Linked DNA regions of Homo sapiens. The protein of the gene in region 1 purifies or fractionates together with the protein of each later gene. This does not show direct contact. Each region holds a gene or a part of one and is shown in the gene's direction. Other genes may lie near its edges.

What was found.
Region 2: the proteins of SEC63 (region 1) and TBL2 purify together in Homo sapiens (affinity purification with mass spectrometry; 2 studies listed by BioGRID and IntAct, with this or other methods). This does not show direct contact.

Annotation. Positions count from the first base shown.
Region 1 is NC_000006.12:107,951,326-107,955,234, reverse strand, and holds part of SEC63 (translocation protein SEC63 homolog), read left to right. Parts: intron 1-3,909. UniProt on the Homo sapiens protein: Mediates cotranslational and post-translational transport of certain precursor polypeptides across endoplasmic reticulum (ER). Proposed to play an auxiliary role in recognition of precursors with short and apolar signal peptides.
Region 2 is NC_000007.14:73,576,194-73,580,102, reverse strand, and holds the start of TBL2 (transducin beta-like protein 2), read left to right. Parts: upstream 1-1,523; 5' UTR 1,524-1,553; coding exon 1,554-1,683; exon of another isoform or gene 1,684-1,791; coding exon of another isoform or gene 1,792-1,813; exon of another isoform or gene 1,814-2,130; intron 2,131-3,401; exon of another isoform or gene 3,402-3,531; coding exon of another isoform or gene 3,532-3,562; intron 3,563-3,909.

The DNA of each region.
Region 1 (3,909 bases):
AGCCGAGATCGTGCCACCACACTCCAGCAATGCAGTGAGGTAGGTTCTATTATTATCTCCATTTACAGGTAAAGAAACTGAGGGTAGAGCATGTAAGTAATTTTCCTGTATGGTTGAACTGGGATTAGAACATTGGTCGCTTAGCTTCAGAGCCCTGTGTGGTTTCCATACTGCTAGATAGAAAGTTAGGTGAACTATTATGGGTGTCAGTTTGCCCGTTTTACATCCGGCTCTCTGCTTCAGGCTTGCCTTAGTCCATATGCATATTTTGATGTATTTGTTTGCTCTTGCTCAAAATTGTGTTATGAAAATTAAGGTGAATACTTAAATGCTATTCTAATCATTATGAAAATTGTTGGGCACCACTTGGACTTTTTTCTTGGATTTACCCTAATAACTTGAGTTGTTTCTGTGGAATTACAGTTGTAGTAAAAGGATGTTTTCATCATAGTGACTTTTTTTCTGCAGCCCAGTTGCAGTATCTTGAATATGAAAGAGAAATCTTGAATTACTGCCTCATTCAAAGCTCTGAATAAGGAACTTTTTTCAGAAGTTTGCTGCAAAATAATTTGCCGACTTGTACTGACAGGAGGCTACTGAATAATCTTTATCTCACTTAATAAATAGTTATGTTCTGTCTTGGAATATTAATTTGTTTGGTTATTGGTGCACTTTAGACCCCATAGGGTCTGTTTGAGTGTAAACGCTGTGTTACTTTTCTAAAATCTGAAAAATTCTTTTTTTTTTTTTTTGATTTTTTTTTTTTTTTTAATTGATCATTCTTGGGTGTTTCTCACAGAGGGGGATTTGGCAGGGTCATAGGACAATAGTGGAGGGAGGGTCAGCAGATAAACAAGTGAACAGAGGTCTCTGGTTTTCCTAGGCAGAGGACCCTGCGGCCTTCCGCAGTGTTTGTGTCCCTGGGTACTTGAGATTAGGGAGTGGTGATGACTCTTAACGAGCATGCTGCCTTCAAGCATCTGTTTAACAAAGCACATCTTGCACCGCCCTTAATCCATTTAACCCTGAGTGGACACAGCACATGTTTCAGAGAGCACAGGGTTGGGGGTAGGGTCACCGATCAACAGGATCCCAAGGCAGAAGAATTTTTCCTAGTACAGAACAAAATGAAAAGTCTCCCGTGTCTACCTCTTTCTACACAGACATGGCAACCATCCGATTTCCCAATCCTTTCCCTGCCTTTCCCCTCTTTCTATTCCACAAAACCGCCATTGTCATCATGGCCCGTTCTCAATGAGCTGTTGGGTACACCTCCCAGACGGGGTGGTGGCCGGGCAGAGGGGCTCCTCACGTCCCAGTAGGGGCGGCTGAGGAGAGGCGCCCCTCACCTCCCGGACCGGGCGGCTGGCCGGGCGGGGGGCTGACCCCCCCACCTCCCTCCCGGACGGGGCGGCTGGCCGGGCGGGGGGCTCACACCCCCACCTCCCTCCCGGACGGGGCGGCTGGCCGGGCGGGGGGCTGAACCCCCCACCTCCCTCCCGGACAGGGCGGCTGGCCGGGCAGGGGGCTGACCCCCCACCTCCCTCCCGGACGGGGCGGCTGGCCGGGCAGAGGGGCTCCTCACTTGCCAGTAGGGGCGGCCGGGCAGAGGCGCCCCTCACCTCCCGGACGGGGCGGCTGGCCGGGCGGGGGGCTGACCCCCCCACCTCCCTCCCGGACGGGGCGGCTGGCCGGGCGGGGGGCTGACCCCCCACCTCCCTCCCGGACGGGGCGGCTGGCCGGGCAGAGGGGCTCCTCACTTCCCAGTAGGGGCGGCCGGGCAGAGGTGCCCCTCACCTCCCGGACGGGGCGGCTGGCCGGGCGGGGGGCTGACCCCCCCACCTCCTTCCCGGACGGGGCAAATCTGAAAAATTCTGAAGCACATTTGTTCTTAAGGATTTTAAGTAAAAGATGAGGACCCCCGTAGTACAGTTTTGGGGAAACACAACAGCATATATAAGTATTTTTATTTTTTGAGATGGAGCCTTGCTCTGTCACCCAGGCTGAAGTGCAGTGGCGTGATCTCGGCTCACTGCAACCTCTGCTTCCCGTGTTCAAACGATTCTCGTGCCTCAGCCTCCTGAGTAGCTAGGAAAACTGGCGCGAGCCACCATGCCTGGCTTATTTTTGTATTTTTAGTAGAGATGGGGTTTCACCATGTTGGCCAGGCTGGTCTCGAACTTCTGACCTCAATTGATCCACCTGCCTCGGCGTCCCAAAGTCCTGGGATTACAGGCGTGAGCCACTGTTCCCTGGCCACAGCAGCATATTTTAATACTTGTTTTTGAGGCTTAGTTTATTTAGTTTTCCTGTGAAACAGTTAAGTAGCCAAATACAAAAATGTAGGCATGCGTTTGAATTTCAGACTTCTGACAGTATTTTCAGAGATAGCATGTGCATGAAAGCATGAAAAGGTTTGCTCTGGCAGTTACACAACCTTAAAGTTCAGTTTAAGTAATTTTTTTTTTGTTTGTTTTGGCATGAAGTCTCGCTCTGTTGCCCAGGCTCCAGTGCAATAGCAAGATCTTGGCTCACTGCAACCTCCACCTCCCAGATTCAAGCAGTTCTCCCACCTCGGCCTCCCAAGTAGCTGGTATTACAGGTGCCTGCCACTACGCCCGGCTAATTTTTGTATTTTTAGTAGAGACAGAGTTTCACCATGTTGGCCAGGCTGGTTTCCAACTCCTGACCTCAAGGGATCTGCCCACCTCGGCCTCCCAAAGTGCTGGGATTACAGCTGTGAGCCACTGTGCCCGGCCCAGTTTAACTAATCTTTATTGAGGTTTTTTTTTGTGTGTTTTCTGCAACACATTTGGGACTTTCAATTTTTAAGGTTGACAGTCGTTTCAGCATGGCTGTTTTGGAATTAGTGGGCTCTTGAATACACCAGAAAGCATAGCACCATTTCACAGCTTGTAAAGTCTGCGGTTTGAAAAATGGAAATAGTTCGTTTATTGGCATATTTGACATGTTAATTGAACGTACCTGTTATCTAAAACATTATTAATGGAATACTTTTGCCTTGATTTCTGCTTAACATGTTTAGCTAAGCGTACTTATAATTAATACCCCTTTTAGTAGTTATTTGTTTTACTCTCTTGGTTTGCAAATTGGCTGAATAAAATGAATATTTCTTCAGACAATTAAGGACAAAAGCTCTGTATGCAATGATAACACGGAGGGCTTAGATTTCCTTGGCATAGTGATTCTTAACCCTGGCTACACATTAGAATCACTTCGGGAACTTTTTTTTTTTTTTTTTGAGATGGAGTCTCGCTCTGTCACCCAAGCTGGAGTGGAGTGGCGCGGTCTCAGCTCACTGCAAGGTCTGCCTCCTGGGTTCACCCCATTCTCCTGCCTCAGCCTCCCGAGTATCTGGGACCACAGGCGCCCACCACCACGCCTGGCTAATTTTTTGTATTTTTAGTAGAGACGGGGTTAGCCAGGATGGTCTTGATCTCCTGACCTCATGATCCGCCTGCCTCAGCCTCCCAAAGTGCTGGGATTACAGGCTTGAGCCACCGCGCCCGGCCCACTTCGGGAACTTTTTAAAACACTTGTACCCATCCCCAGATACTCTGATTTATTTGGTCTGGAGTGGGTGTTATGTACTGGTATTTTTTAAATATCCCTATATGATTCTAAATTGTAGCTATGTTTGAGAAGTGCTGCTTGGAGGAGAGCTTCCTTAGTAATGGTCTTTTGCTGTAGTTGCCATTTTGGGAGGTAGTATATTTGTTTTGCTATGTGCTCTTTGCTAACAACAACAACAAAATCCAAAAAACTAATGTGTTAGCCTTTTTGTTTTACATAGCTAAGAAGCACTTACAGAACAGTAACGTAAAGTTCTGGGAGTTAAAAGCCAGATATTTTTGTCAAACAACTTTAATGATACAAGTTTACAATCAG
Region 2 (3,909 bases), on another chromosome or scaffold:
AGGCGGGCGGATCACGAGGTCAGGAGTTCAAGACCAGCCTGACCAATATAGCGAAACCCCGTCTCTACTAAAAAATACAAAAAATTAGCGGGGCATGCTAGCGGGCACCCGTAATCCCAGCTACTCGGGAGGCTGAGGCAAGCGAATCGCTTGAACCCGGGAGGCAGAGGTTGCAGTGAGCAGAGATGGCGCCATTGCACTCCAGCCTGGGCGACAGTGCAACGAGACTCCATCTCAAAAAATAAAAAATAAAAATAATCTCCCAGCTCGGCATGGTGGCTCACGCCTGTAATCCCAGCACTTTGGGAGGCCGAAGCAGGTGGATCACCTGAGGTCAGGAGTTCGAGACCAGCCTGGCCAACATGGCAAAACCCCCGTCTCTATAAAAAACACAAAAAGTAGCAGGGCATGGTGGCACGCGCCTGTAATCCCAGCTACTCTGGAGGCTGAGGCAGGAGAATCTCTTGCACCCGGGAGACGGAGGTTGCAGTGAGCCGAGACGCGTCACTGCACTCCAACCTGGGCAACCGTCTCAAAAGTAAATACATAAATAAATAAATAAAATAAGTTTTCTATTAAAAATTCTCCCTTTTAACTTTCGACTTGCCAGGCCAGCCCCAAATCCAGGCCCTCGTCACCTCCCTCTCGGATCCTTGAAGCCACTGCCGGTTTTCTGATTTTGGTCTTTTCACACAAAGGTCCATCCAGGGAATCCTCAGACACAGCTTTTGCCCCACCTCTCCCTGTAATGAGCAGCTTGTTGGATGGAGCCAGCGCTCAACGTCCCCCAGACCTTTCCGCCCCTCTAGCCATTTCCCACATCCCAGCTTCTCAGGTCTTTGCGGAGGCTGTTCCACTCCACGCGCCTGGCCTACTCTTCCTTAAAAGCCCATCTGAACTTTCGCTGATGCTGAGTTTCCTATCCGTTAAATGGTAATAATAATCCCCGCCCCGCTTCCTTGAAAGGATCCAGTGTGGTGATGGCTGGAATAATGCCTTTAATAAACAATTATCAGTGAGTTCTTCAGGAGGAGGCGTGAGCAGTGATCGCAAATCCCGCCTTCCTCCGCCCTCCGCAGCCCTGCAATCTCAACCGCCAGGCGACCCGCCCCTCGAAACGCACCAAGGGTCGAGCCCTGCCCCTCGAGATGTTCTACTTCCAGGCCCCGCCCCTCGAGACACTCTACCTCCGGGTTCTGCCCCTCGAGACGCTCTAACAACCCAGCCCCGCCCCTCGAGACGCGCTAACTCCAGACTCTGCCTCTCGAGGCGCTCTAATAACTAGGCTCGGCGGGTGGAGATGCTCTAACTCCAGGCCCCGCCCCTCGAGCGCCACAACAGCCGGGCCCCACCCCTTGAGGTGCTTTAACGGCCAGGCCCCGCCCTGAAGGCGTTGTAACAACCAGGCTCCGCCCCCAGGCGCTCTAACGGCCAGGCCCAGCCGCTTGAGGCTCCCCAACGGCCAGGCCGCGCCCCCGCGTGCGTGCGCGGCCCGGCAGAGCCGTGCGGGCGCCCGCGTACTCACTAGCTGAGGTGGCAGTGGTTCCACCAACATGGAGCTCTCGCAGATGTCGGAGCTCATGGGGCTGTCGGTGTTGCTTGGGCTGCTGGCCCTGATGGCGACGGCGGCGGTAGCGCGGGGGTGGCTGCGCGCGGGGGAGGAGAGGAGCGGCCGGCCCGCCTGTAAGTGGGGCCGGGTCGGGTGGGGGCGGCCCGCGGTGTCCCGGCTCCCGGCCTCCTCGTGGTCCGACCTGCGGTTTGGGCCCGCGGCTGGTGGGGCCCGGCGACTCCATGGGCCTCAGTTTCTCCTCTGGTAACGTGAGCTTCGCTTCCAGAGACGGGGACCCGCCTTGCCGGGTTAGGCGCACCTCCTGGGGCGGGACTGGCTCCAACCTGGGCCCCTTACTGCGGCTTTCTCTGTGGCCGAGGCCAGGCCGTCCCCGGGGTGGCCAGGAGAGCACCGTAAACTCTTCAGCCTGCTCCGTGGCCGCGATCTCGGAAAAAGCACCAATTCTGTGATGTGCAGCAGCATTTACTGGGCATCTATGACCCTGTGATAGGCTTTGGGGTCTTTTTCTGTAAGGAGTCCAGTAAAGGAGAAGTACATCTGTATTATGAACACCTAAATATGTAAGTGAAAAACACGGTGAAATAAGTTTCACTGAGGCCAGGCGAAGTGGCTCACGCCTGTATTCCCAGCACTTTGGGAGGCCGAGGCAGGGAGATCGCTTGAGCCCAGGAGTTTGGGACCAGCCTGAGCAACATAGCAAGACCCCATCTCTACGCAAAATTAGCTGGGTGTGGTTGTGCACGCCCCTGTAGTCCCAGCTCCATGGGAGGCCGAGGCAGGAGGGTGTCGTGAGTCCAGGAATTCAAGGCTGCAGTGAGTTGTGATAGATCGCGCCACTGTACTTCAGCCTGGGTGACGGCAAGAGCCTGTCTCTGAAAAGTTTCATAGAAGAGGTTAGTACTAGAAATGGGAAACACCAGAGAGTCAGTGGGCAGCCCTGCTCTTTTTATTTATTTTTCAGACAGAGTTTCGCTCTTCTTGCCCAGGCTGGAGTGCAGTGGCACAATCTTGGCTCGTTGCAACTTCCGCCTGCCAGGTTCAAGCGATTCTTCTGCCTCTGCCTCCCGAGTAGCTGGGACTACAGGCACACACCACCACGCCTGGCTAATTTTTGTATATTTAGTAGACGGGGTTTCGCCACGTTGGTCAGGCTGGTCTCGAACGCCTGATCTCAGGTGATCCACTCGTCCTGGCCTCCAAAAGTGCTGAGATTACAGGCGTGAACCACTGTGCCCGGCCAGCCCTGCATTTTTTTTTTTTTTTTTTTTGCAGGGGGACGGAGTTTTGCTCTGTCGCCCAATCTGGAGTCTAGTGGCGGGATCTCGGCTCACTGCAAGCTCCGCCTCTGGGTTCACGCCATTCTCCTGCCTCAGCCTCCTGAGTAGCTGGGACTACAGGCGTCCGACACCACACCCGGCTAATTTTTTGTATTTTTTGAGTAGAGACGGGGTTTCACTGTGTTAGCCAGGATGGTCTCAATCTCCTAACCTCTTGTGATCCACCTGCCTCGGCCTCCCAAAGTGCTGGGATTACAGGCGTGAGCCACCCTGCCTGGCCGAGTCCTGTTCTTTTATGGGGGAGGTGGTTGTTAGGGAAATCATTACTGAGAATAGGGGGCACATGAGGTAGTGTGGGGTCTCAAAGGATGGTTCTAGAAGAAGAGTTTGCCAGAAGGCCAAGGAAAAAAGACATTCCTGCCAATGGCAATACCCGAGAAGGCAAGGAGTCCCCAAACAGCATTTGGTATGACTTAAGTGTGAGGAGGGGGGCTTGTTAGACATGCCTGGAGAGAAGGAAGCAGAGGACAGATTGTGGCTGTGTTTGTTTGCAGGGCCCAGGAGCTTTTTTCCTGTTGGAATTGGGGAGCATCTGCAGTCATTTACCACATGCCAGCTTTGTGACTCAATTAAGTATCTTTTACAAAAGTGACTGGCTCCACTCCCCCGCACAGGACTCAACAGATGTTGACTTCTCATCCCCGAGTTCTTTCAGGTACTGGAGTGCAGTGGTGCGATCTTGGCTTACTGCAACCTCTACCTCCTGGGTTCAAGTGATTCTCCTGCCTCAGCCTCCTGAGTAGCTGGGATTACAGGCGCCTGCCACCACGCCCGGCTAATTTTTGTATTTTTAGTAGAGACGGGGTTTCACCATGTTGGCCAGACTGGTGGAACTCCTGGGCATCAAGATGATCCAGCTGCCGGGCCGGGCATGGTGACTCACGCCTGTAATCCCAGCACTTTGGGAGGCCGAAGCGGGCAGGTCACAAGGTCAGGAGATCGAGACTGAGGCAACAGAGCGAGACTCTGTATCAAACAAAAAAAAAAAATGATCCAGCAGCT